Homo sapiens: one gene and its partner. The protein of the gene in region 1 purifies or fractionates together with the protein of each later gene. This does not show direct contact. Each region holds a gene or a part of one and is shown in the gene's direction. Other genes may lie near its edges.

The links.
Region 2: the proteins of TOM1L2 (region 1) and SZRD1 purify together in Homo sapiens (affinity purification with mass spectrometry; 2 studies listed by BioGRID and IntAct, with this or other methods). This does not show direct contact.

What each region holds. Positions count from the first base shown.
Region 1 is NC_000017.11:17,839,881-17,855,873, reverse strand, and holds the end of TOM1L2 (TOM1-like protein 2), read left to right. Parts: intron 1-4,921; coding exon 4,922-4,981; intron 4,982-7,014; coding exon 7,015-7,051; intron 7,052-8,090; coding exon 8,091-8,239; 3' UTR 8,240-12,363; downstream 12,364-15,993. UniProt on the Homo sapiens protein: Acts as a MYO6/Myosin VI adapter protein that targets myosin VI to endocytic structures. May also play a role in recruiting clathrin to endosomes. May regulate growth factor-induced mitogenic signaling.
Region 2 is NC_000001.11:16,357,469-16,373,521, forward strand, and holds the start of SZRD1 (SUZ RNA-binding domain-containing), read left to right. Parts: upstream 1-9,773; 5' UTR 9,774-9,789; coding exon 9,790-9,840; intron 9,841-11,624; exon of another isoform or gene 11,625-12,083; intron 12,084-16,053.

The sequences.
Region 1 (15,993 bases):
TTGGAAACTTTTTGTACTATTGAGTGAGATCAAAGGCTTTTAGACTTGGTCCCAGTGGGGTGGTGCTTGAAGTGACATAGGAAGGGATTCACAGCTTCTCTGGAAATAGTACACCTGAGCTACAGAAATTGTTCTTGTTACATTGAAAACTGGACAGGTGGGTTTCCTTGTGGGCATGGGGCTGTGGGAAGCTGCAGAGGAGCATCTGTTGGAACCCTTATGCTCCTGGGACTCAGGTGTGTGGATAGCCAACACAGAAGTTAACTGACACCACCAGGCTTATTACTGGTTGAAGAGAAATGAGACTTGTCAATGGGCTAGGGCCGGGCGGCTCTCAGGGAGACTGCTAGGCTTGTGCTCTCCCTCCCTGGCCTCTCTAGTGTGAGGTCTTTTTGCCTCTCTTGGCTGGTGATCAGCTAGGGGTGTCTCCCTTTTGCAGGGTGCAGCCAGGAAAATATCCTCATGTGAGAGAATCTAAGTCAAAACAAGAACAGAGGTAGGTTAGTAAAGAATGCTGCTGCCAAAACCCAGGCTTGGGTTTGGAGGGCGGGACTCCCTCCTCAGACCTGGAGGCCCCCAAGGCTCTTACTCTGGAAGGATAATCCTAACCCCTGGAGTACCAGACAGACATGCCTCTCCCCCTTGGGCAGGCAACCCTCCCTCCTGATCCCTGAGGCAGAGCTGCCCCTGCCTGCAGTTCCAAGTGAGAATCAGCTGACAGCAGGATGGCTCACCTGCCACTCAGATCAAAACCTGTGGCTTCTGACATCCAAGATGTCTGTGGACTTTGAAAATGGGCAGGGCTGGTCTAACCACTGCCTCAGCCAAGCCAGCCTGGCCTACCTATCTTCAGAGGGGCTGAGCTTCAGGCAGCAGTCTCTATTGGAGGGCATTCCTCTGCTAGCTTCCTTCCTTTTCTCTCTTCACATGTCTTCTTCCTTTCTGTCCCTCTCTTCCAACTCATACGCTTCTTCAGATCCCTCAGACCAGCCTTCAGCTTGGATCATTGCCCAAGAAAATGCTGAAACTATGGCATGTCAGGCTGGGTGCAGTGGCTCACATCTGTAATCCCAGCACTTTGGGAGGCCAAGCTGGGCAGATCATTTGAGGCCAGGAGTTTGAGATCAGCCTGGCCAACATGGCAAAACCCTGTCTCTACTAAAAATACAAAAAAAAAAAAAATTAGGCAGGTGTGGTGGCTCACGCCTGTAATCCCAGCTACTCAGGAGGCTGAGGCACAAGGATTATCTGAACCTGGGAAGCAGAGGTCGCAGTGAGCTGAGATCGCACCACTGCACACCAGCCTGGGCAACAGAGCAAGACTCTGTCTCTAAATAAATTAATTAATTAAATAAATAACTAAATAAATAAATAAAAATAAAAATAAAACTATGACACATCAGAGCCAACAGCCTTCTTAGGAATCTGCTGGGCCAGCCCCTAGTCTGACAGATGAGGATACCGAGGCCTCCTAAGGGCCTGGTGTCTTGCCCAAAGCTGCAGGGAAGAAACAGAGTCCCCTAAGACTCAGCGCAGTGCCCCCTGCTCCAACCAGGGCCCCACTTCCCTCCCATCAGCCTGACAAGGAGCGCGTCCTCGGCCTCCCACAGTTTCTTTGGTTCATATTTTCCAAGCAGTGTACATGTTTAGTCTGAGTCTGATAGCACCTACATTATTAGAAGGAACTTTGCCCTGTTATAATACTCAAGGCATTTATTTACCAGGACAAGAGGTTTAGATAGCTAAGGTTTTGTGTCTGGCCACAAGAAAGTCAATTTAAGCTTACGTTATATAAGCTTAACTGTTAACCATCACCCTGCTCCACCATGGTTCACGCCCTGAGGCCAAGTGGCTTCTATATTGTAATGAGTCAGTTTCCATAATTTCTGACATCCCTGGGTTTCTGAATTAGAAAACAGAAGCACCAACCTGAAAGTTAAGGTTTCTGAGTCATAAGAATTGAAAGCCAAATACAATCTAGCAATCGCCTTATTTCACAGATGAGGAAATTGAGGCCAAGCATTGCTCAGGCCTCTGTCCCCTGCTCCTGCCTCTCCACCCAAATCTCTAAGGCTTCTTAGGATAGAAGAAACTCAGGAGCTCTCCGGTGAAGAAAGTGGGGTCCAGAGAGGAGCGACTCACCCCAGGTCCTGCCACCAGTGAGTGTGAGGGCCCAGATGGACCCCACCCAGTGCACTCTCCTCAGCGTGCCCTCTAGGGCTTGGTCTGGAGGATGCCATTCCATAAACATACTACTTATTTGGAAAAATCTAGGACATGGAAGAAAAGGGTTCCCATGAGCCAGCTTTTGGGAAGTTATTTTTGAGGAGGTGAGGAATTTCTTAAGTGTCATTGTTTATTTTCTGAGCATGTTGGCTCTCAAGATTTATCCCCAAAGAAGAAAATTAAAGTATGACCCCAGGCCTCAAGGGATTTGTTCTTTAGCAGCAACAAAACAATTACAAGAAAAATCTGAAGGTTTAAGGCCCCTGACCCCTTAATGTCTTTGTTGTAGCTTTTGCAACACATTGGAAAGCTCAGGACATCTAGTCTGTTTCTGCTAAGTGGACAAAAGCTGGTCAGGTGTAAAGAAAGGGCTGGTGCACACTCTAACCGCTAGTGTGGGACTATTTTCTCTCTGGAGATGCTGCTGACTTTCTAAGCTTCAGTTTTGGGGACTCAGCATGGCATGCGTCCTCCCAGAGGCCACACATTCTGACTTACAGTCATTGAGAGCATGATAACTGGTGTGTCCTGTTCCAGGAATGTCTCAAGGCAGAAGGCCTGCCAGCAAGCACAGAGTAGCAGTGTACCCTACTGCCTTTTGATGGGCAAGGGCAAGGAAGTGCCAGCCTTAGGCATTGTTAACACATCTGTCAGTCATTTGTGCGTCCATCCCCCCAGTGAGGACCCACATGCCTCCTGTCCCTAGGTTTCATGTCTGGGTGATAAGACTCCCTGATACCTTTTCAATTCAATGTTCTTTTTTTTTTTTTTTTTTTTTTTTTTAGACAGAGTTTCAGTCTTGTTGCCCAGGGTGGAGTGCAATGGCGTGATCTCGGCTCACTGCAACCTCTGCCTCCCAGGTTCAAGTGATTCTCCTGCCTCAGCCTCCCCAGTAGCTGGGACTACAGGCGCATACCACCACACCCAACTAATTTTGTATTTTTAGTAGAGACTGGGTTTCTCCCTGTTGGTCAGGCTGGTCTCAAACTCTTGACCTCAGGTGATCTGCCCGCCTCGGCCTCCCAAAGTGCTGGGATTACAGGCATGAGCCACCGTGCCCTGCTCAATTCAACATTCTTAACTCCCCAGTAAGTCAAAGAAATAATGAGCAACACAGACTCTTCCTAATCTGATCAGTGACTGGCTTGGGCCTTTCTGAAAGTGCTCTTGTGGGCTTCCCACATTGGGTCCGAAGTTAGGACACAGAGCACATTCCTCAGAGCAAGGGGCCAGCTGAGCTCACTGAGGGAGTGAAGAGCTCTGGTGGCATCGTAGATACCTGCTCAGAGTGCTGGACTCTACCTGGGACCCCAAACCACCCTCCCCCACCATCAGCAGCAGGTGTCAACCCCCAGGACTGGAGTTGTCACATCACTGCTGGTGATATGTGTTCTTTGTTCTTTTTCTTTGTGAAGGTCGTGTTATTTTTTACATTTGATAGACACTGGGGTATGCATTCCTTTTACTGCTTATTTTTACTTTAGTCTTACCCTAGATCATGGCATTGGGTGAAGCCAGCTATAGACAGAGCTGGCATTTTTGTAATAGAAATAGGGGTCTTGCAAGTGAGCCCCGGAAGGGTACCTCCCAGAGCCAGGGTAGGTGAGGAGGTGATTAAGGGTCATCACCTCATTTCTCTAGGCTGGGAGCCAACATTCCATTAACATGGCTTCTAGGGAGCTTCTTATCATGTCATATTTGATGGCAACTTAAACCTTTTTAGCCATGTGCATTTTTCAGAGTCTCTGTCCCTGAGGTGCTTGGCACAGGGGCCCAAGCAAGGTGACTGCTCAGGCAACCCCGTGGTACACCTTAGTATGCCTGGAAGCTGTCACCTCCCTGGCTCTGGCTGCTGCGCCCCAGTGCTCAGCTGAACTTGGTTTCTTTGACTCCTGAAGCACAGCCAGCCATTGAACACAGGGAAGAAAGGACGAGACTAAAGGGAGCTGTTGCTTTCAGGGCTGCTTCATGAATTTCCCCTAAAGAGACACAAAGAAGACTAAAGCCCCATAGTCCCCTTTGTCATCAGAGCCCTCGTTTTTGCTGTGTTTCTGTTGATGGTAAAATGTGCCTGCCTCTGTCTACCAGGCCACACCCAGCCCAGCGGAGCACGCACCTCCTCCAGTTCCCCTCTCCACTCAGAAATGCACCAGGACGCATTTCAAAATCTCTTCAGCGGAGCAAACAGACCCCCTGCATCCCCCCGGGGCTGGTGCTGCCCTGCCCTCTGAGCACCTGTACCCCGCTCTGGGCAGGCTGTCACTTGGCCTTCCCTGGGTTGGGCTTGACAGCGGACTGTCATAGTGGCTGAGTTCAAAATCAGCCTGCGTGGCAGCGCCTTCCTGAAGTTAGAAGGTGTTTTGCAGCCCCGGGCTGAGAGGCCCCGCAATGTGAGAGTGGACACTCATAGTCAAAAAGTTCTCCATTTCAAGAACGCGTACAGCCACCTTCCTTACCGCCGGCCCTGCCGGGAGCCTGCTTCTTATCATTTGCACCTCATTGCTTTCCTCACCTGCCATCTCACACGTGGCTGCCCTGTGTTGCCCCTGTGTGCTGTGCCAATTGTGTTTTTTTGCTCTGTGTACATTTTGGTTTTATTTGGGGTTGCTGTTGATGATTTCCTTTGTTCCGGTGTTCTGTCTCCCCTCGCTGGCTGTGTGGGGGCTGCCTGGCCCGCTGCTTGCCGCCTCCATAGATCCCCGTTGCGCAGCCATCTGTCATGGACGACATTGAGGTGTGGCTCAGGACCGACCTGGTGAGACTCGACTTTTCTATTTCATCTGTGGGGTGTGGAGCGGCAGAGGCTCTTCTGAGGACAGGCCTTGGGGGAGCATCAGCAGGGGCTCCACCCCTGTCTGGGTCAGTGGAGAAGGGAGGTCTGGGCAAGCTCCATAGCTGCCCCTCCTCCCCGACATCAGCCCATAGCTGTGGGTGCTGCAGTGGCCTCCCGGCCTGCGGAGGCCAACTGTGCTGGGGGCAAGGCCTTGGGCACAGCCTCCTTCACCCACACAGTCCTAGCCGTAGCTGGCTCCAAAACACACACTTGCCTTCCCCCCAGTATCTTTTCCATTTCAGATGTATGTGCCGTGCTTTGGTTTTTTGGGGGAGGGAGTGTTGGGGGAGCATGTTTTTTGTTTTGTTTTGTTTTGTTTTCATTTCTTTTTTTTTTAATTGTGAAGTATACACACAGTGCTTTTGTTTTTAATTGGCTGTCATCCCCCTCCTCCCTTCCTGATTTTTGATGTAAAAGAACCCCTGCCCCAAAGACCCATTGTCTCCATCCTCAGAGATAGGGCTAGAAGATGAGGATACTATGCATCTGAAAATGGCAACAGGTCCCAAGAAAGGAGAGCTGCAGTGGCTGCATGTGATAACTGCTGGCCCCTCCCTCTGTTCTTTACAAAGCACTTTCACTCTCAGCAGCCCAGTAGGGGGCCAGGGTGGCGGATGAAGAAGTGCACTCTGGGAAGTGGCTTGCCCAGAGTCATGGGGTAGTTGGATTCTCCCCCAGAGCTGGAGACACCTCATCTCCCTCCTAGGTGCCTCCTCTGTAGGGGGCCTTGTCCCCAGGCAGAAGAGCCTGTTGAGTTCTTTAACCACAGGGTCAGCCTGGCTGTCTGTGGGCTGGTGACCTGGCTACCTCCCACACCAGGACAGCAGGCCTCAGGTTGGGGCCTCTGGCTGCTCTGGGCCTCCTCCCCAGAAGGTCAGCTTTCCAAACACATGCCTTGCCAAAGAAGGCAGCTGCCTGGGTGTCAGGGAGGAAGAACACACCCCGGGACATCTTTCCCAAGGGGCTGTCTCGAAAAGAAATTGCTTCTCTCACAGAAGCAAGGCAGGAAGGACCAAGGTCCTTAACTTCTAAGGGGGACCCCAGGGTCCAGACAGGGAGGGGATGTGTCCAGTAAGGCTACATAGCAGGTCAGTGGTAGAGTCAGGAAGGAACCCAGGTCTCCTAGCCCAGCCCAGGGCTTTGTCACTTCCCCATCCTGCCCCTTCCCAATGAGGCCCTGCACATGCTGCTCTTCCCCAGTCCCCAGGGAACCCCATGAGCTCAAGACACTACCATGTTCTCCAAACAAAATCAAGTCTGATGCACTTTAATTTTTGAGTGCACAGAGCCTCCATGGCTCCTTGAGGAGCCAGCAGCAGATAATATAATCTGGGCCACGGGAGGAGGCTGGTGCAGCTCCCAGGAGGCTGCAGGACATGGCTTCTGGAGGCACAGCCTCCACTCCCAAAGTACCTACTGAGTGACAGGCCCTGTGCTGTGGGCTTTGTGGCCCTGAGCCATCAAGGCCTCATGCGGTTTCCAGCTATTGGTGTCAACAGCGTCTTCCCAGAAACCCTGTGGCTGGCAGTGAGTGGGTGTTGTGTTGGGCACACGTGACCCTGTGTGTGCTCAGGCTCAGCCCCCTGTGGCTACTGCTCTGTGCCTCTCCCTAGAGCCTCAAGAGTGCCAAAGGTGGGGTCCCGCCCTCTGCAGCCCAGGCTGGAGAACCAGCCTGCACCGTTTTTGGAGTTTTCTTTCCAGCCTTTCTGGAGGATCAAAACCTAAAACATGTTTGAATTTTTTGCTTTTGTTTTTTAAAAACAAAGCTTCTGTTTCTCCAATAAGAAGAGCAGTATTTTACTATTACAGAAATCTGGAAACAGGGAAAATTAGGAAGTTTTGTTCAGGCTACCCTGGGCAGTGCTGTCCTAGGGTGGCCATGGGCAGACAGAGGTGGCTGGGCGGGCAGTGCTTGGACCAGTGCCCTAATTTCATTTTCTCTGCTCCTCCCACAGAAGGGTGATGATCTGGAGGAGGGTGTCACAAGTGAAGGTATGGCCTGGCCAGTGGCCTTACAGCCCCCTTTTGTTGCCTCTGTGCAGGCTGCACAGGAGCCAGCCCCCATCATCTTGGAGCCCCCGCTGCCAGAGCACCTACTGGTGCCAGGCCCTGAGCCATGGGCTTCACGGGTGGCTTTGTCCCACCCAGGTCTTACGCTGATTTGGGAAGTGTGATTTATCTCGCTTATTGGGAAACAGGTCAGAAAGAACATGTCAATTCCACAAAGTTGCAGAGCTGGTGAATAGCGGGTGCAGATTGCCACCTGGTCCTGACCCACAGGTGCTCAGCCCAGCTCAGACACGCAGTTTGTGGAGGTGCGCAGCAGCACCCTTGGGCCACTGAGCCAGAAGGGAGGAGCCTCTCCTGGGCCTCAGCTGATGGGCTGGATGGGAGCAGCGGGGTCTTAGTTCTCCCACATGGCCACCCCCACATCCCCTGCCCTTCACATCCTGCCTCCCCAAGCTCATCTTGCCCCACTCCATCTGCCTCTCCGTGCTCCTGTCCTCCTCTCCCCAGGTCTGCCAGACCCTGTGGCCAGACCGCTCCGCAGGGAGGGAAACTTCAGAGGACCCTGCTCCCTAGCTCTCAGTGCCCATAGAAATGGGGCACTCCCCCCTCCCCACTGCATTCCTCAGCATCTCCTCAGTCCTCCATTGGTGGGCAAGGGTGGGGTAGGTGGGATGGTTCCTGCCTGTTTAATCAGAAGCTGGCCCCTCCAGCTTACCCTGCCCCACCCCCAGTGCTGATCTGGAAAATGGACAAAACCCAGTGCTGATCTGGAAAATGGTCAGCGGTAGGGTGAGCACTCTGGGCTGTGTTTTCCAGAGCCTTTCCCTCCAGGGCAGGAGGACTGGGCACAGCCAGGAGCCTCCCCCCACACTGCAGCTCACGAACCCCTCCCTACCCACCTGCTCCTAGGTGGGCTTCATGCCTGCCCTAGAGGAGGAAACGGGCTGGGGAGTGGAAGGGTGCGCTTCCTCTGGTGGCCTGCCCTCACCAACCCTGACCCTTGCCTTGGTTTGTATTGCAGAGTTTGATAAATTCCTTGAAGAAAGAGCCAAAGCTGCTGAAATGGTTCCCGACCTCCCCTCGCCCCCCATGGAGGCTCCTGCCCCAGCCTCAAACCCTTCTGGCCGGAAGAAGCCAGAGCGGTCAGAGGATGCCCTCTTCGCCCTGTGAGCAGCTCTGTGGTTTGCCTCCCCAGATGGCGGGTCCCCGCTCGCACCCCGTGGACACCGGGCACTGGCCACTCCTACATCCCCAGCTCCACACGGCCTGCACACCTGTGTTTCCATGGAAATGCCACCGTGTCTGCTCCCAGGCCTCCCACTAGTCAGGACCAGCTTCAGCCACTTCTTTTCTCTGAGTGGTGGGACAACTGCAGCCAGAGACTCTCTCCCCTCCCACCATGGGCCCCTCTGCCCATGTTTCCTCCCAGGAAGAGCGGGCAGAGTGGCCCAGCCCCAGGCAGTGCTTCCTGAGCAGACCACCCGGACTGTCTTTCCTCCACCCGCCCATGGAGAAAGAGCACGCCCGGCCCCGCCCTGTGCTCACCTCTGCCTGGCTCAGCGACCTTCTCAGGCATTCTGCCCTCCTGGGCCCCTCTCTCCCTGAAGGGGCTTTGTGGCATCTCTGGAAGAGCAGGGTGTGCTGCACTCATGGGCCTGGTCTCACTCCTTGGACTTGTCACCTTGTGACATTTGGCTTATCAGCATTTGAGAAGGCTCTGCTGGGTCTCCATGGTGGGGGTCTCTCACCTTCTTGACCCTCTCTCCATCATTCAGCTGCCAGCCCAGGCTTCACACCCAAGCTGGCTCAGCAGCCGAGCCTGGCACCGAGGGTCCCTGCAGGCTCCCTGGGCAGGGAGAGGGCCAAGGACAATTGGGAGGGCAGCAGGCAGCCCGCAGATGGTGGCCATGTGGCACGCTGCTGAGACGACACTACCAATAAACCAAACTGCCACGCACACACTGCAGGCTCACACCCGCACACCTGGTCCTGGCTTGTGGAGGGACTTGCACTGGAGGTATTGCTCTGGCTTGCCTGGGGAAGTGTCACAGATGTGCACATGGGCCACACTCAGTGCTGTGGCCTGGCCTGCCGTAGCCTCACACATCTGCCTCAAGAGCCAGCAGCAAACAGCTTTGTGGCATCCTTGGAGGTTCCCAGTGACTGAGAGGCCTGGGCAGCACTAAGGCCCCTGCTCTGCTCCCTGGCATAGGCCTTGGCCTCCTTGCACAGACTCTCCTGACAGTCTGGCCTCCTCCCACCTCAGAGGTCCTCTGGCCACCAATTTATACTCTCTCCCCAAGCTGATCCTGAAGGCAGGCAGAGCAGCTAGGGGCTGGTAACATGTATTCCCATCCCGTGTCCTCACTGGTGTGTCTCCTGGCCATGGGCAAGGGACTCGGGTCATCCCAGGCCCTGGTCCAGCCAGACACCTGGCCCCACACCTCCCACCAGGCTGCTGTTGCTCAGAAGGAGAATACTGCAGCTGTATGCATCCCCGTGTGTCTTGGGCCCAGCTCGCTGGGTCAGTCTGCTCCTGTCCCCTCCAGCATGCACTGCCTAGGTCAGCACAGGTTCCTGATCCATGGTGTAGTTAGCCCTTCCCACCTGGCAGGACGGCCCAGACCACCAGCCAAGCAGGGAAAGGGGGCTGGGCTTGACGGGAGAAGAGACCAGCGACATGGTCGTTGGGGAGCATTCAGGATGGCGACTTCAGCTGGGGGTCATGCTGAGCACCAACAGGAACTATTCCAGTGAAGAGCAAGTGCTGCCCGACCCAGGACCCTGTGCCAGGCTAGCAGCCCTCCAGCTCCCTCCAGAGAGGAAACCTCTGTCTGGCTGAGGGTGGGACTAGCTGGGATGTCTCACTCCAGTTGCTCAGGTTCACCCAGGAAGCTCCTCCGTGGAGTGGCCAGCCTGATTCTAGCCCTGTCCTCTCTGGCAGCACATGCCACACCTGCCTGGGCCTTCTGCTCCCTGATGCTTGATGAGCCCCTGCCTCCTCAATGTTTCTCAAAGACAGACCCCCCTGAGGCCAGCTTGAATGTGAAGACTGCTGAAGTTAGCTGGCTTCACTTGAGCTGCAGAAAAGGTGGCTGGGATGGCCCAGGTGCACCCAGAGGCCCCAGCCCTTTGGCTGCCTTTGGGTTGTGACTTGGGTTGTCTCTGAGGCCCTGCCAGAGCTGGGCCTGCGGGTGGTGGGCGGTCCGACCTCGGGCAGTCAGTGCTCCGCAGCCTCAGCACTGCATCCCAGACCCAGTGTCCTCAGAGGGAAGAGCCAGCCTCCCTGCCTCATGGAACCAGGAGTCCCAAAAAGTCAGGAGCCTGGAGGCTCTGAAAGGAGCAGGGATTCCATAGTGCGTGAAGCTGAAATAGGCGCCCTCCTGGGGAGCCCCCAGCAAAACTGTTTTTCATACCCACTCCCAGAACTGCCCCGCTCCAGCTCCAGCGCCAGCGCCAGCTGGTTGCCAGGCATCATTGGAGAGGCCTGGCTGCCCCAGGGGCAGCAGGGAGTGGTGGACCTGTATGGGCTGGCAGGAGGCCATTGGCCATGCTGACAAGTGTCACCTGCCTTCCTAGCCTGGAGCCACCCCTCAGGTGGCCTGCTTGCACCTCCTATCCGGAGGTAGCCTGCCCCACCTGTAGGCAGAGGGGGCTCTTGCTTGAGGCCTGCACAGGAAGCAAGTATAGCCCCGGTGCCCCAGAGTGGGTTCCACTTAGCCCTGGCGAGATGGCCTGTCCTGAGATCTCTGCTCCCAGACCCCACCATCTGGGGAGCACAGTCCTTAGGCTGCCTGGTCCAGGAAGGGGGTGCGGCTCTGTCAGGAAACCTGGACTCTCAAGGCCCACCAGCCTCTCCGTGAGTGTTAGAAATCACAGATACAGTATATACTTAATTACACTAAATTATTGCTGGGATTCCTTATAAGCACTAATTATACCTGATTATAGGTTAAAATATTTATTTTGTCAAAATATTTTCTTGGGAATGTGTTTAACCCTTTCTGCGTTCATTGTTGCTGAGATGTGAAAACTAACCATTCCCTCCTGCCTACCTTTTTGGCCACTGGGCGGCAGAGAATGGCGCTATGTGCAGTTGGGCCCCTGGCACCATGGGCCTTTGGCCTGCCTGCTGCAGAGTAGCCCTGCCTGGGCAGTCTCCAGGCACTGAGCAGGCCATCTGTGGCCAGGCTGAGAGAATGACTGGCTCGCTTACCAGCGTGCATGGGACAAGGAGCTTTGGAGCCTCAAGGGGTTGTTGCTGGCCTGGGCTAGAGGGAAAGGTGACCATCCGTCTGTCCTCCTGTCTTTCTATTAGCGCCTCCATGTGAGTGATGGTGCCTTGGTTCACTAGCCTTCCCCCACCACCCCACCATGCCACCTGGTGGTCTTGGGGCCTGTGCTGTCACTCCAGCCCCTGGGGAGGAGAGGACCCAGCCCGGAGAGTTGGGGCAAGGGCTCCACATGGCCCAAGGGCAACAGATGCTCGCAGGGCAGCTGCTGCCGATGCTCACGCTCCTGCCCCCCTCCTTCCCGCTGCCACACCCCACCCTGGGCCCCCGCAGACACGCATCTCTAACTCAGTTGGGCCCAGCCTTCTGGATGGCTTGGGGTAGGCCATGGGCCCACCTGGGGCCAGGCCAGCCCCTGGGGCAGCTCTGGAAGAGCAGTGTGGAGGAGCACTTGCTTGCAGCCTGGCTTCAGCCTCTGGCACTGCTGGAGTGGTCCCTGGGAGCTTCTGCACTGTCGGCTTTGGGGACGTCTCACCCACTTGGGTTACAGTAGGCCTTCCCCACCCAGAGAGAAGTGTTTCCACCCCAGAGACATTGTCTGTCAGCCCCTGAAGTGCTCGCCTCCCCCAGTGCCCGTCACCAGCCCTTCCTATCTGTGGGGTCCAAGTCAGGCTTCCCCTGCGGCCACCAGCCATAGGGAGCAGCCATCAGCCCCCGAGTCAGAACTGCTTCTGTCTGTCCATACCTCCAGGCTCTCCCGGAGAGGGGGACGGATATTTATTTCCTAAAGTTTGCACTTAATTGTGAGGATTCTCAGGATTGTTGGGGGCTACTGAAAAGAGGAATGTGTTGAATGTCGCGTTTGCTGTCCACTCGTCCTAGAAGTTTAGTGTTTTTGTCACTGTCATGTGTTTCTGTGGGCAGAGCTGGTTCTGGAGGGTGGGTCAGTGCACCCGAGGCTCAGAGCATCCATCCACCCCACTGGCCCTCCTTCCAGATACCCTCTCTCTAATTGGGTTCTTGCATGTAAAATACTCCACAATAAATAAATAATTGAACAAATTATGCCTGTGTGGTCTGTTGAATTGGCTACGACTGTCCAAAGGGCTTGCCAGTTTTGACCACCTGCTTTATTTAAGCAGGGGTGGCCATGGGGACCCTCAGTCCACCCTTCCCCAGTGGCCAGGCTGCCTGAGCAGCCCCTTACCTGGCCAGGAAAATTCCTGTGCGTGGCCCAGGTTGTGACATCGGTGGGAGTGGCTGTAAGCCTGCTACAACCTGCCTGAGAGCTCTAGGACCAAGTGCTGTGGTTGTTCCTAGGTCTCACCCCAGGTCCCAGATGGGCAGGAGGAGGCCACTCACCCTTGCCCAGGGCACCCAGGCCTTGAGCAAGCAGGCCTGAGCCACCCCTGACCCCCTCTAAGCCCCAGCCCCCACCCTCGGCTGGACTCCCACAGCTTGGCTGGGCATCATCTGCAGAGCCTGTGCTGGGCACTGAATTTGAGAACTGCTGCTCCAAGCCAGGTAGACTTCACACTTTGTTAACAGTTTTACTGAGATATAATTCACATAGCATACAATTTACCCATTTAAAGTGTACAATTAAGTAGTCTTCAGAATATCCATAGAGTTGGGCAATCATCACCGCAACCAAATTTAGAACATTTTTATTCCCCCCAAAAGAAACCTGTCTCCTCCCATCCCCACAGCCTGCTCTCCCTTTCTAAAAAGGCTTCCTTCCCCCTCTCCCCTTGTCCTGGAGGTGGGCACCTGCAGCCCTTTGTTGTAAGGTAGCTGTCCTCCTGGAAGCAGGCCCCTCAGGCCCAGAGGCATAGGGGGTCATGAGGGGTGCATTGTGGGAGCCTGTGGGAACTGTGCCTTCTCCAAGTGGCTTGGGAGGCCGAGGGCCCTTTAATCCCTTCGCTGGGGCTTAAGGACAGACCTCAAGTCAGGGTGGACTCACCAAACCCCCGATGAACCTGGAGATCTTCCCAAACTCTTGCTGTGCCAGTGAAGACATGGAGGACTAGAAAGAGCTGTAGGCTTGCCCCAGGCTGCACAGGGAGTAGTGGCAGAACCAGTACCCAACCCAGAGCCAGACCTCCCAGACAGGTCCATGAAGTGGGCAGGAAAGACACCACTTCCATGGCCAGCAGATAAAGCTGCCCCACCTACCCTGAACAGCAGCCCTTCTGGGAGCGTGGCTCAGGAGGGGCTCTCCTGCCCACTGATAGGAGTCAGGTCACGGCAGGGGCCGTGTTGGGACCACCGCCATCACCAGTCGTAGCCAGAAGGGGCGGCACCCAGCTACCTCTGGCCAGTTGCCTCCCTGGGCTCCAGGGAGCTCTGCAGAGCCCTGTTTCTGACCAGTTGGAGTGAGATAAAGGTTCCCACACCCAGGGGAGAAGGGGAGTGGGCTCCTGAAGTGGGGGTGGGGGGCTGCAAACCCAGGTCCCTTTAAACAGATAGCATAGATCCTGGCTCATTATGTGCCCCCAGCACTGTACCAGGCAATGTGGGCACTGAAAGAGGCCTGAGCTCTGTCCCTACCCTGTGGAGAGTAGATTGGTGCTGAGACACTACTGTGGACTCACCAGGACACCTAGGCCACTTGTGCTTTCAGCAGTGTTCCTGAGAGCCTGCTGTGTGCCAGGCTGGTGCCAGAGGGGAGGGACAGGGCTGCTCCAGTCCTGCCCTTGGGGAATGTGCAGCCTGGTTCTATTCCCAGAGTCAAGGACACTCTGCAGCCAGTTAAGTGTTGTAGCTCTCTTCCAGGGCCTGCAGGAGAGGAGGCTCTGAGCACATAGCTGAGCCCCAGGGCACTCAAGCTGCACACTTGAGGGAAGCATTGTGGGAGCCTGTGGTTTTTCCAAGAAAAAGGTCTCCTTTGGGTCCTGGGGGCAGCGGGAGGGCAGAACCTGAGGCCTTGGACAGGTCTGCATGACCCACCCAGAAATGCCATCAGTTTATTTTACAGGAGTCCCTGTCAGAGCTTTTGGGGCAGACCTCAGAGGAGTCTGTCCAGGGCCTCCAAGCCCAGGCCCTCAACATTCCAGGACGCAAAATCTCTACTCTCAGCACTAGGGAGTAAGTAGGATGCTTCCGGAAATTGAGTGGACTCCATTGTCTGGTGCCATTTCCTGTCCACCCCATTCCTCCCTAGGGTTGCAGGCTTAACTGTAGGTGTTGGGTAAGTCACTGTCTCACTCTGTTCTTTACTCTCCTGATCGGTAAACTGGTGTAGTGGGTGGTAAACCCAATGCCCACAGGGGCCTTATTACATTGATTTCCTCACTCTCCCTGTTGCCGGCTAGACTCACCCCATTCAATATGCAATTGGCCTCTCCTCAAACAGCCAGTTACCCCCCAGGGAACAGGTATCAGTCTTCCTCAGCCTTTGTGAGCTACACCCCTCACTGTGCAGCAATCTTTGGGGTTCAAGTAGCTCTTTGGTAGAGGGTGTGTTCAGTGACTCATGATAAGCCTGCAGGTGCCCACATGGGTGTGAGCCTCCAGGGGCAAAGCTGGCCATGGAGGCTCAGAGAGGGCTGGAAAGAACTCGCCCAGCTCACCACAGAGCCCAAGCTGGAATGAGACCACGAGCGTCATCTAGGACCAGAATCACCCATGTCAACAGTCATCTGACCCCATTATATACAGATGGAGAAGTGGGGGAGGGGAGACTCAGGCTCTGAGCAGTCTCTTCCCACAGCCTGGCCCCTCTGCCATAACCTGGGCAGGTCCCAGCTTGGCTCCCACAGCAGTGAAGGATATGCAGGGCCAGGCAGGGGGGCAGGGGGGCAGGGGGGCTCTGGGAGTGGGGAGGGGTTTCAGTAGCCTAGGCAATGGCTAGAGTGGACAACCCAGTTTTCCTGCCCAGTGCCTGCCCTGCCATCCACGGCTGAGCTCCGGGCACCGAGGGCATGGCTGGACAGGACAAGCGTCCTGGAAGAGGCCCTGCCCGTGCTGGACGCCTGCCCGAAAAGGCTCGAAACCCACAGAAGCTGCCTCTCAGTCTCTAAGAGGCTTGGAGAGGAAGCGGGGAGATGCGAATTCCTATCTCCCAGTTGGCAACGCCGAGGTCGGGCAGGGGCCGGGCTGGGTGACCTGGAAGGAATCCTCCGCTCTGGGCGCGCCACGCAGTCCCGGGTGGGGCTGTCCCGTGTTAGCCCTTCCGGTGCCCGGGACGCGCACCTGGCGGCATTCCTGGCCAGGTGTCTGGACTGGGGGCTGAGCCCAGCCTGTCCCCGCCGCCCCTCCCTACCTCCCGGGTAGAGCGGGCGCGGCGCATGTGACCCAGGGCTGGGCTCCCGGGAGTTACGCGCTGACGCCGCGTCACCCCACTCCGGGCCGGGCGCCCATTGGCTGCGCCGGGCCCGCGGGGGCGGGGCTGGTCTGGCTCTGCGCCCCGGCTCCCCTGGGTCTCCAGCCGCTGCCCTGGCCCGCGCGCGTGCGGAGCCGCCCCGGCTCTCCGGCTACCTCCAGTCCAGACAAAACCAGGGGCAGCAGTGCTGTGAGGTCCTGAGCAAGTCGCTTCACCGTCCCGCTCCACGTGCCTCAATTTACTCATCTGTAAAATGGGATGGTAACAGCCTCAACCGCCTGAGGCTGTCGAGAGGAGTGAATGGGTTTAAACCGCACTGAACACTCTGTAAGCGCTCAGCAAGTAAACTGTGCCGAACCTGCCCGCCG
Region 2 (16,053 bases), on another chromosome or scaffold:
TGGGATTACAGGCATGAGCCACTGCACCTGGCCATAATTTTTTTTTTTTTTTTTTTGAGGCAGAGTCTTGCTTCTGTTGCCTAGGCTAGAGTGCAGTGGCACAATCTCTGCTCACTGCAACCTCCGCTTCCTGGGTTCAAGTGATTCTCGTGCCTCAGCCTCTTGCGTAGCTGGAATTACTGGTGCGTGCCACCATACCCAGCTAATTTTTGTATTTTTAGTAGAGATGGGGTTTTGCCATGTTGCCCTGGCTGGTCTTGAACTCCTGACCTCAGGTGATCCACCCACTTCGGCCTCTCAAAGTGCTGGGATTACAGGCATGAGCCACTGTGCCCGGCCATGGTCATATATATTTTTTAATGAAACATAAGGTCTCTGCCCTTGTGGAGGGCCCTACTATCTACTGAGAGAGATAACCAATACACAAAGACTGTAGACAAGATAGAAGTATAAATTGTGATAAGGACAAAAGTATTAAACTCTAATAATAATCACAATTGCTATTTATTGTTTACATTTATTATGTACCGAACTCTGCTAAGTAGGCGTCATTATTGTGCCTATTTTAAAGATGACGAAACTGAGCTACATAGTGGCTGGAATATCGGGGGAAGACTGGAGATTACATTATAGGTCATGAAGAACTGGGAACGGGGAGGTTATACTCTATAATTAAAATGGTTTTTCAGAATAGTCTCTCTGCAGTGTGAAGGCTGATTGGGACATGATTAAAGACAGGGGATAAGGCTAGAATGAAAGGGGTGGTTGGAGTCTCTCTAATACGTTTAAATAAGGTACTTTCCTCCAGAGTCTGTCCCAATAATCAATCACAGTCACGCACCACATAACAGTGGTCAATGGCAAACCACATGTACAATGGTGGTCACATAAGATTATAATACCATATTTTTACCGTACCTTTTCTATCTATATGTTTTGTTTTGTTTTTCTCAAGACAGAGTCTTGCTCTGTCGCCATGCTGGAGTGCTATGGCGTGATCTCGGCTCACTGCAACCTCCCCCTCCCGGGTTCAAGCGATTCTCCTGCCTCAGCCTCCCAAGTAGCTGGGATTACAGGTGTGTGCCACCACGCCCAGCTAATTTTTTGTATTTTTTGGTTTTTTATTTTATTTATTTATTTATTTATTTATTTATTTATTTATTTATTTATCTGAGACAGAGTCTTGCCCTATCAGCCAGGCTGGAGTGCAATGGCACAATCTCGGCTCACTGCAACCTCTGCCTCCTGGGTTCAAGCGATTCTACTGCCTTAGCCTCCCAAGTAGCTGGGGTTACAGGCACGCATCACCATGCCCAGCTAATGTTTTGTGTCTTTAGTAGAGACAGGGTTTCACCACGTTGGTCAGGCTGATCTCCAACTTCTGACCTCAGGTGATCCACCCGCCTCAGCCTCCCAAAGTGCTGGGATTACAGGCGTGAGCCACTGCGCCCAGCCAATTACTGTATTTTTAGTAGAGACAGGATTTCTCCATGTTGGCCAGGCTGGTCTTGAACTCCTGACCTCAGGTGATCCGCCCACCTTGCCTTGGCCTCCCAAGGTGCTGAAATTGTGCTGGGATTACAGGTGTGAGCCACTGTGTACAGCCCAGAACATAATTTATTCTTTTGTTTTCTTTTTTTTTTTGAGATGGAGTCTCCCTCTGTCGCCCAGGCTGGAGTGCAGTGGCACAATCTCGGCTCACTGCAAGCTCCACCTCCTGGGTTCATGCCATTCTCCTGCCTCAGCCTCCTGAGGGACTACAGGTGCGTGCCACCACGACTGGCTGTTTTTGTATTTTGAGTAGAGATGGGGTTTCACCATGTTAGCCAGGATGGTCTCGATCTCCTGACCTCGTGATCCGCCCGCCTCAGCCTCCCAAAGTGCTAGGATTACAGACATGAGCCACCACGCCCGGCCCAATTTATTGTTTTTTTGAGACAGAGTCTCGCTCTGTCTTTCAGGCTGGAGTGCAGTGGCATGATCTCGGCTCACTGCAACCTCAGCCTCCCAGGTTCCGGCCATTCTCCTACCTCAGCCTCCAAGTAGCTGGGATTTACAGGTATGCGCCACCACGCCTGGCTAATTTTTGTATTTTTAGTAGAGACAGGGTTTCACGGCGTTGGCCAGGCTGGTCTCGAACTCTTGACATCAGGTGATCTGCCTGCCTCGGCCTCCCAGAGTGGTGGGATTAAAGGCATGAGCCACCACACCTGGCCAGAACATAGTTTATTCTTAAAGGGTTGGGGTGCATGACTTAACCCTTGCTTGGTATGACCTTATGTCCTGTTTATAATTGGCATCTTGGTCGCACGCGGTGGCTCACGTCTGTAATCCCAGCATTTTGGGAGGTTGAGGCAGGAGGATCACTAGCTCAGGAGTTTGAGACCAGCATGGCCAACATGGTGAAACCCCATCTCTACTCAAAATACAAAAATTAGCCGGGCGTGGTGTTGCCAGCCTGTAATCCCAACTACTCAGGAGGCTGAGGCAGGAGCATCTCTTGAACCTGGGAAGTGGAGGTTGCAGTGAGCCGAGATCGAGCCACTGCACTCCAGCCTGGGCAACAGAGAGAGACTGTGTCTCAAAAAAAAAAAAAAAAAAGCATCTTATTACCACAAAGCATTTGTTGTGTCAGTCTTATGATCTCTATTTTAGCATTAATGCTGGTCAATTGTTGTGTCTAAACTGTGAAAGGGATAGGGTATAACCAAGTGTGTCTGACTTCCTGTTCCATCATGGCTTCTCTGGGGTCCCCTGTACCAAAAGGGTGTCCATTTAGTCCGTTGGAAGGTTTAGGATTTTATTTTTAGTTCTCATGTGAGATCACTCAGTATCAGTGCATTTAGGACAATATAAATGTTATTAACAGTTGCATTCTATTCTTTTATAGGAATGTACCATAGTCTTTTAAAACAAATTCTCTAGCGATGAACATTTAATTTGTTTCCAGTCTTTTTTGATTATAGACAAAATAGCAATGGATATCCTTAGGTATGCACATTTTCTTTTTGTTTGTTTGTTTGTTTGTTTTGAGACTGAGTCTGGCTCTATCACCCGGGCTGGAGTTCAGTGGCATGATCTCGGCTCACTGCAACCTCTGTCTCCAGGCTTTATGCGATTCTCCTGCCTCGGCCTCCTGTGTACCTGGGATTACAGGTGCGTGCCACCACGCCCAGCTAATTTTTGTATTTTTATTTTTATTTATTTATTTATTTTTGAGATGGTGTTTCGCTCTTGTTGCCCAGGCTGGAGTGCAATGGAGCGATCTTGGCTCACTGCAACCTCCATCTCCAGGGTTCAAGCAATTCTCCTGCCCCAGCCTCCCGAGTAGCTGGGGTTACAGGCGCCTGCTGCCACGCCCAGCTAATTTTATGTATTTTTAGTAGAGATAGGGTTTCACTATGTTGGCCAGGCTGGTCACCAACTCCTGGCCTCAGGCAATCCACCCGCCTTGGCCTCCCAAAGTGCTGGGATTACAGGCATGAGCCACCGTGCCCGGCCTTATTTTTATTTTTTTATTTTTTATTTTTTTTATTTTTATTTTTTGAGATGGAGTCTGTTACCCAGGCTAGCGCAGTGGCTTTATCTTGGCTCACTGCAACCTCCACCTGCCAGGTTCAAGCAGTTCTCCTGCCTCAGCCTCCTGAGTAGCTGGGATTACAGGTGCGCATCACCATGCCCGGCTAACTTTTTGTATTTTTAGTAGAGATGAGGTTTCACCATGCTGGCCAGGCTGATCTTGAACTCCTGACCTCATGATCTGCCTGCCTCAGCCTTCCAAAGTGCTGGGATTACAGACATGAGCCACTGCACCAGACCTAATTTTTGTATTTTTAGTAGGGGTGGGATTTCACCATGTTGGCCAGGCTGGTCTCGAACTCTTGACCTCAGGTGATCCACCTGCCTTGGCCTCCCAAAGTGCCGGGATTACAGGTGTGAGCCACCATGCCCAGCCTGCACATTTTCAATATTGGTAAGTTGCCATTTACTCATCACAACTATCTACCTAGCTTCAGCTTGTGCGTCAGATAGAAAGTTATCTCGGCCGGGCGAGGTGGCTCACGCCTGTAATCCCAGCACTTTGGGAGGCCGAGGCGGGCAGATCACCTGAGGTCGGGAGTTCGAGACCAGCCTGACCAACATGGAGAAACTCCATTTCTACTAAAAATACAAAATTAGCCGGGTATGGTGGCGCATGCCTGTAATCCCAGCTACTCGGGAGGCTGAGGCAGGAGAATCGCTTGAACCCGCGAGGCGGAGGTTGTGGTGAGCTGAGATCATGCCATTGCACTCCAACCTGGGCAACAAGAGCGAAAATTTGTCAAAAAAAAAAAAAAAAAAAAAAAAGCTGGGCGCAGTGGCTCATGGCTGTAATCCTAGCACTTTGGGAGGCTGACGCGGGCAGATCACAAGGTCAGGACTTTGAGACCAGCCTGGCCAATATGGTGAAATCCCGTCTTTACTAAAAATACAAAAATTAGCCAGGCGTGGTGGCACGTGCCTGTAGTCCCAGCTACTCAGGAGGCTGAGGCAGAAGAATTGCTTGAACCTGGGAGGCAGAGGTTGCAGTGAGCTGAGATCACGCCATTGCACTCCAGCGTGGGCAACAGAGCAAGACAAGACACCGTCTCAAAAAAAAAAAAAAAAAAAAAGTGGACTCTCTGTCTCAGGAAAAAAAAAAGTCACCTGAGGTCAGGAGTTTGAGACCAGCCTGGCCAAGATGGAGAAACTGTCTCCACTAATAATACAATACACCGGGCTGGGCACGGTGGCTCAAACCTGTAATCCCAGCACTTCGGGAGGCCGAGGCGGGTGGATCACCTGAGGTTAGGAATTTGAGACCAGCCTGGCCAGCATGGTGATACCCGGTCTCTACTAAAAATACAAAAATTAGCCAGGCTTGGTGGCAGGCGCCTGTAATCCTAGCTACTTGGGAAGCTGAGGCAGGAGAATCGCTTGAACCCGGGAGGCAGAGCTTGTGGTGAGCCGAGATCACACCATTGCACTCCAGCCTGGGCAACAAAGCAAGATTCTGTCAAAAAAAAAAAATTAGCTGGGTATGGTGGCCCAGGCCTCTAATCTCAGCTACTCAGAAGGCTGAGGCAGGAGAATCGCTTGAATCCGGAGGATACAGTGAGCCAAGATCACGCCATTGCACTCCAACCTGGGTGACAAGAGAGAATCTCCATCTCCAAAAAAAAAAAAAAAATGCAAAAACTTAGCTGGGTGTGGTGGCACACACCTATAGTCCCAGCTACTCAGTACTCAGGAGGCTGAAGCAGGAGGGTCACTTGTGCTTGGAAGGTGGAGGTTGCAGTGAGCCATGATTGTGCCACTGTACTCCAGCCTGGTGACCGAGTGAGAGCAGAAAGAGTGAGAGAGAGAGAGAAAGACTCATGCTTTAGGGCCTCTGACAATACCTGTGTATTGTGTGCCTCAACTTTTTTTTTTTTTTTGAGACAAAGTCTCACCCTATCGGCCAGGGTGGAGTGCAATGGCATGATCTCAGCTCACTGCAACCTCCGCCTCCCAGGTTCAAGCGATTCTCCTGCCTCAGCCTCCCTAGTAGCTGAGACTACAGGCGCGTGCCATCACGCCCAGCTAATTTTTGAATTTTTAGTAGAGAAGGGGTTTCACCACGTTCAGGATGGTCTTGATCTTTTGACCTCATCTTCCACCTGCCTCGGCCTCTCAAAGTGCTGGGATTACAGGCGTGAGTCACGGTGCCAGGCCGCCACTGCCTCAACTTTTTGGGCTTATCCCTGGAAGAAGAAACTGCCACTACTTTTTCAATTTTAGAGCTAATTTGGTTCCATCCCTGATTTTACAGATGAGGAATCAGACTGAGAGAGAAGAGACTTGCCCAAGGTCACAAGGGGTCTATGTGATTAACTAAGACTGACCTCCTGGTTACCCATTTTGTGGAACAAAAACTATTTCATTTGCAGCATTTTCAGATGATTTCCAAGGTCTCCATCTTTCTTGTCTCCTTGAAAATGCAGTCCCAGAAATGCACAACTAATGCTTTTGTTAAGGGTCGTTGCCCAATATGCTAAATTGTAAGAAACCATCTCCCTCTGCTGGTAATATGGCATAACGACAAAGCTTAAATATAGGAGTCACTTGCATTTAGGAAAAACTATTGCTCCAGAACGAGGTTATGTCTGACAGTTTCTGTATACTTTTTTTTTTTTTAGACGGACTCTTGCTCTGTCGCCCAGGCTGGAGTGCAGTGGTGCGATCTCGGCTCACTGCAAGCTCTGCCTCCCAGGTTCACACCATTCTCCTGCCTCAGCCTCCCGAGTAGCTGGGACTACAGGCGCCCACCACCACACACGGCTAATTTTTTTTTTTTTTTGTATTTTTAGTAGAGACGGGGTTTCACCGTGTTAGCCAGGATGGTCTCAATCTCCTGACCTCGTGATCTGCCCGCCTTGGCCTCCCAAAGTGCTGGGATTTACAGGCGTGAGCCACCGCGCCCAGCCCCGTCTGACAGTTTCAACCACTTTGCTGTTGCCAAGACTCAGTCAGGATAATTTACTTCAACGAATGGGTTCACAGTAGAATGTATTCCAAGTAAATATAATCTCACAGAGTGAATAAGCCAAAAATCCATGAAATTGGTGAACTCAACAGAATTACTGAGTTTTTGTGTGGTTTTTTTTTTTGGTTTTTGTTTGTTTGTTTGTTTTTTGAGATGGAATCTCACTGTCACCCAGGCTGGAGTGCAGTGGCATGATCTCGGCTCACTGGAACCTCCACCTCCCGGGTTCAAGCGATTCTCCTGCCTCTGCCTCCTGAGTAGCTGGGATTACAGGCATGCGCCACCACGCCTGGCTAATTTTTGTATTTTTAGTAGAGACGGGGTTTCACCATGTTGGTCGGGCTGGTCTACGAACTCCTGACCTCGTGATCCGCCTGCCTTGGCCTCCCAAAGTGCTGGGATTACAGGCGTGAGCCACTGCGCTCGGCCGAGAATTACTTGAGTTTTAGAGACTTAAAAGCTGCTAGTGGAATATCCATGTGGAGATGGCAATAAGAAGCCTAGCTGTAAAAATCAGAATCAGAAACACCAGGTCAGTTCACAGCTAGAAGTCAACTTTGGCAGTCTTCAGCATACAGTGGGTGGCTTATACCATGAACATCTAGGTAAGAACAGTGGACTGAGGACAGACCCTGGAAATGAACAATATTTCAGAGTCAGGAAGTTGTGAAACCAGAGAATTAGTAAGCATATCACTTAAGCTTCTAAATAAAGACCAGTAACATTTAACACATGGTTGCAGTTTATGATGATAATCATTAAGAATACAAATAACAGGACGGGCAGAGTGGTTCACACCTGTAATCCCAACACTTTGGGAGATTGAGGCAGGCAGATCATCTGAGGTTAGGGGTTCCAGACCAGTCTGGCCAACATGGTGAAACCTGGCCTCTACTAAAAATACAAAAATTAGCTGGGCATAGTGGCAAGCACCTATAGTCTCAGCTACTCGGGAGGCTGAGGCAGGAGAATCACATGAACCCAGGAGGCAGAGGCTGCAATGAGCCAAGATTGCGCCACTGCACTCCAGCCTGGGCGACAGTGAGACTATGTCTAAAAAAAAAAAAAAAAGAATACAAATTATGAAATTTCACAGCAGGAAGGTTTTACTTCAGAAAGATTAATGGCATACTAAAAATACAAGAAAAAACACATTCCAAGTCAGATAACTTGGTTATAGCAGCCAAATGCAACACTACTGAATGACATGTATTTAAAACTGAGAGAAAAACAGGAACATGTCAGTAAGAATATAAACACATGGTGTTTGCTTATCTCCCTGCCTTTTTTTTTTTTTTTGAGACAGAGTCTCGCTTTGTTGCCCAGGCTGGAGTGCAATGGCGCAATCTTGGCTCACTGCAACCTCTGCCTCCTGGGTTCAAGCAACTCTCCTGCCTCAGCTTCCCAAGTAGCTGGGATTACAGGTGCTTGCCACCACATCCGGCTAATTTTTGTATCTTTAGTAGAGATGGGGTTTCACCATGTTGACCAGGCTAGTCTTGAACTCCTGACCTCAACTGATTCGCCCACCTCAGCCTCCCACAGTGTTGGGATTATAGGCGTGAGCCACCGCGCCTGGCATCTCCCTGTCCTTATATTTTAAGAAAGGATGATTACAGAAGTGACAATTATAAATCTTCCTCGGGCAGACAAGACACTCCCATAATGATAATAGCTAACCCTTAGGACTCTTACTATGGGTCAGGCACTGTTCTAGGCATTTCAGCATAGTAACTGGTTAAATTCTTACAATCTACTTTTGAAGTAGCTATCTCTAATGTATACACTTGGGGAACTGAGACATAGAATCCTTATGTAACTTGCGTTAAGATCACACAGCTTTTTTTTTTTTTTTTAGTAGAGATGGGCTTTTGCCTCGTTGCCCAGGCTGGTCTCAAACTGCAGGGCTCAAGCGATCCCCCCGCCTCACCCTTCCAAAGTGCTGGGATTATAGGCGTGAGCCACCATGCCCGGCCACATAAATAACTTTTTTTTGAGATAGAGTTTTGCTCTTGTTGTCCAGGCTGGAGTGCAATGGCGCAATCTTGGCTCACTGCAACCTCCGCCTCCCAGGCTCAAGCGATCTTCCCGCCTCAGCCTCCCGAGTAGGTGGGATTACAGGCATGTGCCACCATGCCCAGCTAATTTTGCATTTTAAGTAGAGACGGGGTTTCTCCGTGTTGGTCAGGCTGGTCTCGAACTCTTGACCTCAGGTGATCTGCCCACCTTGGCCTCCCAAAGTGGGATTACAGGTGTGAGCCACTACGCCTGCCCTGACATAAATAATTTTTTTTTTTTTTGAGACAGAGCCTCACTCTGTCGGCCAGGCTGGAGTGCAGTGGCATGATCTCGGCTCACTGCAACCTCCACCTCCCTGGCTCAAGCAGTTCTCCTGCCTCAGCCTCCGGAGTAGCTGGGATTATAGGCGTGTGCCACCATGCCCAGCTAATTTTTGTATTTGTAGTAGAGACGGGGTTTCACCATGTTGGCCAGGCTGGTCTTGAACTCCTGACCTCAGGTAATCCGCCTGTCTCGGCCTCCCAAAGTGCTGGGATTACAGGCGTGAGCCACCGCGCCTGGCCAGTAATTTTTAGAGGTAATACTAACGTATTTATCTACCATTAAAGACCCAGGAGAACTTAGTAGCTGGGAATCCCACTGGTTCTCCCAACTGAGGTGCAATATTATCTTTACCGTCTTTACCTTACGGTAGCGGATATAGTGTTAATAAATGATTAGAATACTGCTTTATGAGCAGGAAATACTGTAATGATTTTCACCCTATCAGAAATAATAAAATGTTTTCTGCATCAGCAGATATTTTTCATCATTTGTTGGTGTTTAAAAATGTTTTCAGAATTCTGAAGATACCATTATCTGTAGTTTAGGAAAACTACGACTCACTTTAAAAGAAAAAAAGTTTTCTTTAATTGCCTGCCCTTAGAAAAGATGGTTCCACAGAACACACTTCCGGTACTCGAGATGAGGACTTCCCTTGAACGCCCATTCTGTAAGACAGATAACGCGTTGGCCCTTAAGAAAGATGGCATCTTTCCGCCTTCTCTGCCCCCTTCCAAGATGGCTGCCCTAATGTACACTTGGGACCTTGCCTGGCGCCTCTTCCGGGCTTGGCAGCGGGCGGGGTCCATTGAGTAAAGCCTTGCGTGCCTGCGCCCGCGACGGAGGCGCGCTTCAAAGCGCAGGCGCGGGGAGGGGGTGGGGGAGGAGGGAAAGCGGCGAGTAAGATGGAAGATGAGGAGGTCGCTGAGAGCTGGGAAGAGGCGGCAGACAGCGGGGTAAGGAGGAGCCGCCGTCCCATGGCAGGGCCGGGCGAGACCTGGCGTGAGGGGAGCCTCCGGGGAGCGGGTCTGGAGATAGTTCTCCCCAAGGAAGGGCCCCATACGCCGGGCTGGGGGTGGTGGAGAGGCCCCCAGTTCCTGAGCGCCGTGAAGGCCTCTTAAAGGGGCCGCGATCCATTTCTCTCCTTTCCTTTGCCTGGTGCGCCTCCCTCCGCCCACTAACGCGCGCGTCACCCGGGGCGCCCCACCCGCCACCCGGGGCCTCCTTTCCTGACCCCCCGCGCCCACTTGCTGGCCGTGGGCCTCTGTGACTCTTTCCGATGAGCCTTGTGGCCCGAGGCACCATTTTAAAGTTCTTGTGCTCTGACCGGGACGGACACACCATGTGGGTGGTGGTGGGGCTTGCGCGGACCAAGGAGGCATGTCCGGCTTCGCAGGAAAGCGGGAGGAGGCAGCCGAGGGCGGGGGGAAATTGAATCCTCTTTGGGCTACTCAACTCTGCTAAAATCCCCCACCATCCGTCACGGTGGACGAGTCGGGTTTTTTTTCTCTTTCACTTTTACTCCAAGAAGAGTTTGTGGGCAGGCAGGCAGGTCTCACGGGGACTCTGCCAAAGCAACCGAAAGCTCTGCGGGGCAGCTCCTCTGCCACTCAGCGATCCGAGGCCCCGGGAAGGTCTAGGAGTTCGCTTGTCGGAGTCCAGGGTGTGATATGTAAAACAGCCACATTCTTGGGAGAGGAGTGGGGAGATGGACCGTTCGACTTGTTTTTGGAGTTTTTGTTTGCCTCCAGAAACTGTAGGAAAATAGTTTATCTCAAAGAGGATCTGTCAATTCTCTTAGATTTGTGAATAATTTGGTCTTTTCAGAGTTTGTCTGTGGTGACCCTTGTGAATATGGGGAGATGCTTTTTTTGTCTCCCCGTGTTCGCGTCTGTTCAATGCTGGCTGCACTGACATCCACCTTAAAGGTTTACGTGTGCGAGGAGTCGAGCGTACCAGGGTAGAGTAGGCGCTGGGTTTTTTTTCCTAAGCGCTTTTTGGGGGTGCTTATGAGCTCTGGAAGAGGCCGGGAAATTGACCCTGGCAGCAGTCAGTGGGTGTATCTAGCTCTACGGGAATGTTGAAACTTGGCTTTGAAGTTTTTTCCGCTGGTTCAGCATTTCTCTCAACGGTTGTTTATGTTTTTCCATTTAGCATAATTGAGAATTTGAAGGATTCGTTCGTTCAGAGGATATTTAGTAGAGTTCTTAATGTGACAACCATCTTTCTTGAGTTTTGGCTTAAGAAAGTTAAAGATTTTATAGGGAGTAACAGGTGTCAGTTGGCTCCTTGTTCATTCAACCAGCATTTTTGAGTGTCTGCTATATGCTAGGCAGTGTGCTTATCAGTGACTTTGTGCCAGAAAATGCAACATTTTCGGTACAGGCGTTTATTGCCTACCACTAATCTGAGTGAATCATCCAGACATCCCTATAAAAAAGCTTGGCTTACAACTTTAATATCATGCAAATGATACGTTTCTTGGGCATCTTGGCCTTTCTTTGGTTTTCCTCACCTGTTTCAAAGGGTCATAAATCCCTCATGTTAGAGAAGTTGGAGGCAAATGAACAAAAATGAATAGGATTCAGCAGAAATTGGGGCTTACTTTAGTTTTTCAGAATGGGTAAGTCAATTAGAAATAGCTAGTACAGTCCCCCATTTAACAGCTGAATAAGCCTAGAGATGTGAGATTTAGAGACTTAGGTCTTTCTGACGCTTGTCGCGTGTTCTTTCTTTTTTCTTTTGGTTCCCAAGTTTTATTGAAAAACTTATACAAAATATTCCAGATAAATGAAATTTAATCCTCATCTTCCTCCTCTTTGTCCTGGTTAATCTGGAAGTAACATAATTTGTAGCTATCTTTGCTGTTAGTAACTAGGAGCAACCAATCACGTAAATTATTCTTCATATATGTTTTGGTGAGATATTTGAAATACCTTTTGGAGAAAGGCACCTCGGATGTCACGTTGATCTTGCTCTTACTCCTTTCAATGGTCGCCATCCCTCCACCAAGGTTCTCAGCTTTTCCGTTCACTTTGATCCTTTCTTGCAAAAACTGCTCAAAATTGGCAGCATCCATGATTCCATCTTCTACGGGGTGAGTGCATTCAAGAGTGAACTTCAGAACCTGCTTCTTTTTTTTGCCCCCCTTCACCACAGGCTTTTTCACAGAAGCCATGGCAGCAGCGGAGGCAGAAAGCCAGAGTTCTTTCTGCTATCCCTTACTTTAGTAATATCCTTTAAAAATGTACCGCGGCCAGGTGCTGTGGCTCACGCCTGTAATCCCAGCACTGTGGGAGGCTGAGGTGGGTGGATAACCTGAGGTTAGGAGTTCCAGACCAGCCTGGCCAACATGGTGAAACCCCATCTCTACTAAAAATACAAAAATTAGCTGGACCCTATGGTACATACCTGTAATCCTAGCTACTTGGGAGGCTGAGCCAGGAGAATTGCTTGAACCTAGGAGGCGGAGGTTGCAGTGAGCCGAGATCATGCCATTGCACTCCAGCCTGGGCAACAAGAGTGAAACTCCATCAAAAAAAAAAACAAAAAAAAAAAACTACAGAGGTGGAACACAAACCTTGCCTTATTGACATCATGAACACTTCTGCCAAAATGCAGGTTCTCTAATATATTTTATTTAATTGAATCCTTGAAACAACCTGTTGAGGCATTGTCCCCCTTTTATAGACAAGGAAACGGAGGTTTCGAGAGTAACCTGTTTTGCGCAAGATCACACAGCTGGGGGAAGCTGGGATTTGATCCCAAGCATGTCTGACTTCAAGGCTGGGCTTTTTTTCTCTAGCATTTTGCTGCTACCTCTCTACCTGGGGACATGTGGAAAATTTGGGAATTGGGTGTTCTTTCTTTTCCTTTTTTTTTTTTTTGTTTGAGAGAAGGTCTTACTCCATTGCCCAGGCTGGAGTGCAGTGGCTCAATCTCATCTCACTGCAACCTCTACCTCCCAGGTTCAAGCGATTCTCGTGCCTCAGCCTCCCGAGTAGCTGGGATTACAAGGCGCATGCTACCACGCCCAGCTAATTTTTGTATTTTTAGTAGAGACGGGGTTTCACCATGTTGGCCACGCTGATCTCGAACTCCTGGCCTCAAGTGATCCTCCTGCCTTAGGCTCCCAAAGTGCTGGGATTACAGGCATGAGCCGCTGCACCTGGCCTTTTTTTTTTTAATTTTTTTTTTATTTTTTGAGATGAGATTGCCCAGGCTGGGCCTCCCAGTAGATTATAGGCATGTGCCACTATGCCTGGCAGCTTTCATTAAAAAAAAAAATATTTATTTATTTTAGATACAGGGTCTCATTTGGTTTCCCAGGCTGAAGTGCAGTGGCATAATCATAGCTTACTGCAACCTTGAATTCTTGGGCTCTAGCAGTCCTCCTGCCTCAGCCTCCCAGAGTTCTGGGATTATAGGCATGAGCCACTGCCCTCAGCCAGCTTTCATTTTTAATAGTTTGTCTGGGCTTATATTTGAACGCTGTCTTGAATTTGATTCCCTTTTCAAATTTCACAAAGGTTCTTGTAAATATGCACTTTTGAAAGAGGGGAGCCAGGGAGATGTTATGTCCACATCACTGGGAAACCAATGGACTGCAGGCTATACATGTCTTTCATATATAGGCAATTGCGTAAAAGTCTTGGCTTCAGGTTATCCCCTCTTCCTACTGGTAATGAGCTTTGAATACCCTACTCCAAAACAGCAAAAACTGGGTGAAGACTAATAACCTAAATGGGAAAATTGAAACTACACAAAAATCCAGCGGCAGTTCTAATCCTTGGAAGTAAAGGATTTTGGAGATCCCTGCCCTCCAACACCACAAGAAAATTTTTGTCTTTTTTCTTTGAGACAGGGTCTTGCTCTGTTGCCCAGGCTGGGGTGCAGTGGGGAACACTCACTGCAGTCTCAGGCAATTTCTGTCTCAGGCAATCTCCACCCGCCTCAGCCTCCCAAGGTGCTGGGATTACAGGCATGAGCCATCATGCCCAGCCAAAAATTTTTTGACATCATGTAGAATTTCTCCCCTCCCCTCCCCTCCCTCTGCTCCCATCCCTCTGCTCCCCCCTCTCCCTTCCTTTTTTTTCCTTTTTTTTTTTCCCCTTTTTTTTTTTTCCCGAGATGGAGTCTTGCTCTGTCGCCCAGGCTGGAGTGCAGTGGCGCAATCTCGGCTCATTGCAAGCTCCGCCTCCCGGGTTCACACCATTCTCCTGCCTCAGCCTCCCGAGTAGCTGGGACTACAGGCACCCACCACCACGCCTGGCTAATTTTTTGTATTTTTAGTAGAGATGGGGTTTCACTGTGTTAGCCAGGATGGTCTCGATCTCCTGACCTCGTGATCCGCCCGCCTCGGCCTCCCAAAGTGCTGGGATTACAGGCGTGAGCTGCTGCGCCTGGCCCCTTTCTTAAGACAGAAGGGTCTTGCTCTGTTGCCAAGGTTGGAGTGCAGTGGTCGGAATACAGCTCACTGCAGCCTCAGCCTCCTGAGTAGCTGGGCCCACAGGCGTGTACCACTATGTGCCTGGCTAATTTAAAAAGAAAATTTTTTTGTAGAGACAGGGTCTTGCCATATTGCCCAGACTGGAAGAATTTTTGTGTGTGTGAGTCATCTGAGGTCATTGTTTCCTGTATAGCTTCCGAATTCTTAGTATCAAGTCCTATTGTGTCATTTGGAGAAAGACTGACTTTGAGAAGTCCCTCACATATTCTGTGAATAGACTTTTTGCTTTTAGTTAGTATGGCAAACACTTTTTTCTTTTTCTTTTTCTTTTTTTTTTGAGACAGGGTTTCGTCCTATATCCCCAATTGTTTAAGACAATCAATAAAATATGCCAGGCGTGGTGGCTCACGCCTGTAATCCCAACACTTTGGGAGGCTGAGGCGGGCAGATCACCTGAGGTCACGAGTTCAAGACCAGCGTGGCCAACATGGTGAAACCCCGTCTCTATTAAAAATACAAAAATGAGCTTGGCATGGTGGCAGGTGCCTGTAATCCCAGCTACTCCGGAGGCTGAGGCAGGAGAATCTCTTGAACCTGGGAGGCAGAGGTTGCAGTGAGCAGAGATCGCACCACTGCATTCCAGCCTGGGTGACAGAGTGAGACTCTGTCTCAAAAAAAAAGAGTTCATAGTGTTGGTAATGAGCTAACCCAGCTAGGGGAAGGCAGCAGATGATATAAAAATGTAATTGGACCAGTGGTTATTATAAAGCACTGACAACCTCTCTGATTTCCCTGTATCTTGCAAGTTTCCTTTTATTCTTTTTCTCCAGGTCAAGGCATGCAGCTAGTGGGAAGAAAATGCATCTTGAATAAGTTAAAGGATGACTGGTGTTCTGGATTAAGAATTGAAATTTATGTTTACTTTCTACCCCCATGAGCCAGTTATCCAAACATTGCCCCATCAGTGATGCTGGATGGTGTATGAGTCCATAGGAAGGTGTCATTAAACATTAAATAACTATTGCATACCAGGCATGGAGGCCCTGTTTAGTGGGGGAGTCAGACAGGTCCGGCAGCACCTTCAGGAAGAGGCATAAGTGGGGTACCATGGCTGGATCAGAGAAAGTCTTGTAAAGAAGACGATGCCTAAGTTAAGATTTGAAAGATCAGTTGAATTAAGCAGTGGTAAGTCTGGGAGAGGCAGGTAGAGTGTAGGGCCAAAGCAGGCATGGATGAGGAGGCCGAGAGACAAATACACAGCATTGGGAGGGCTACAAGTATTTCCTTCTGGCTGAAGGGGAGAGGGTTGGCAGGGTTGAGTGGAAAGAGATGAGACCACAGAGGTATGTAGGGGCCAGATTGGGAAAGGCTTCCTTGTACTTGGTTCTGGAAGCTTGAACTTTGTCCTGAAAGTGCAAGGAGCTTTGAAGTTTTTTTTTTTTTTTTAAGCAGAAGAGTGATATAGCTAGATTTATTTATTTATGTTTTAAATTTTTTGCCGGACACGATGGCTCATGCCTGTAATGCCAGCACTTTGGGAGGCTGAGGCAGGTGGATCACCTGAGGTCAGGAGTTCGAGACCAGCTTGACCAACATGGAGAAACCCTGTCTCTACTAAAAATACAAAATTAGCCAGGTGTGGTGGTGCCTGCTTGTAATCCCAGCTACTCGGGAGGCCAAGGCAGGAGAATCGCTTGAACCTGGGAGGTGGAGGTTGCGG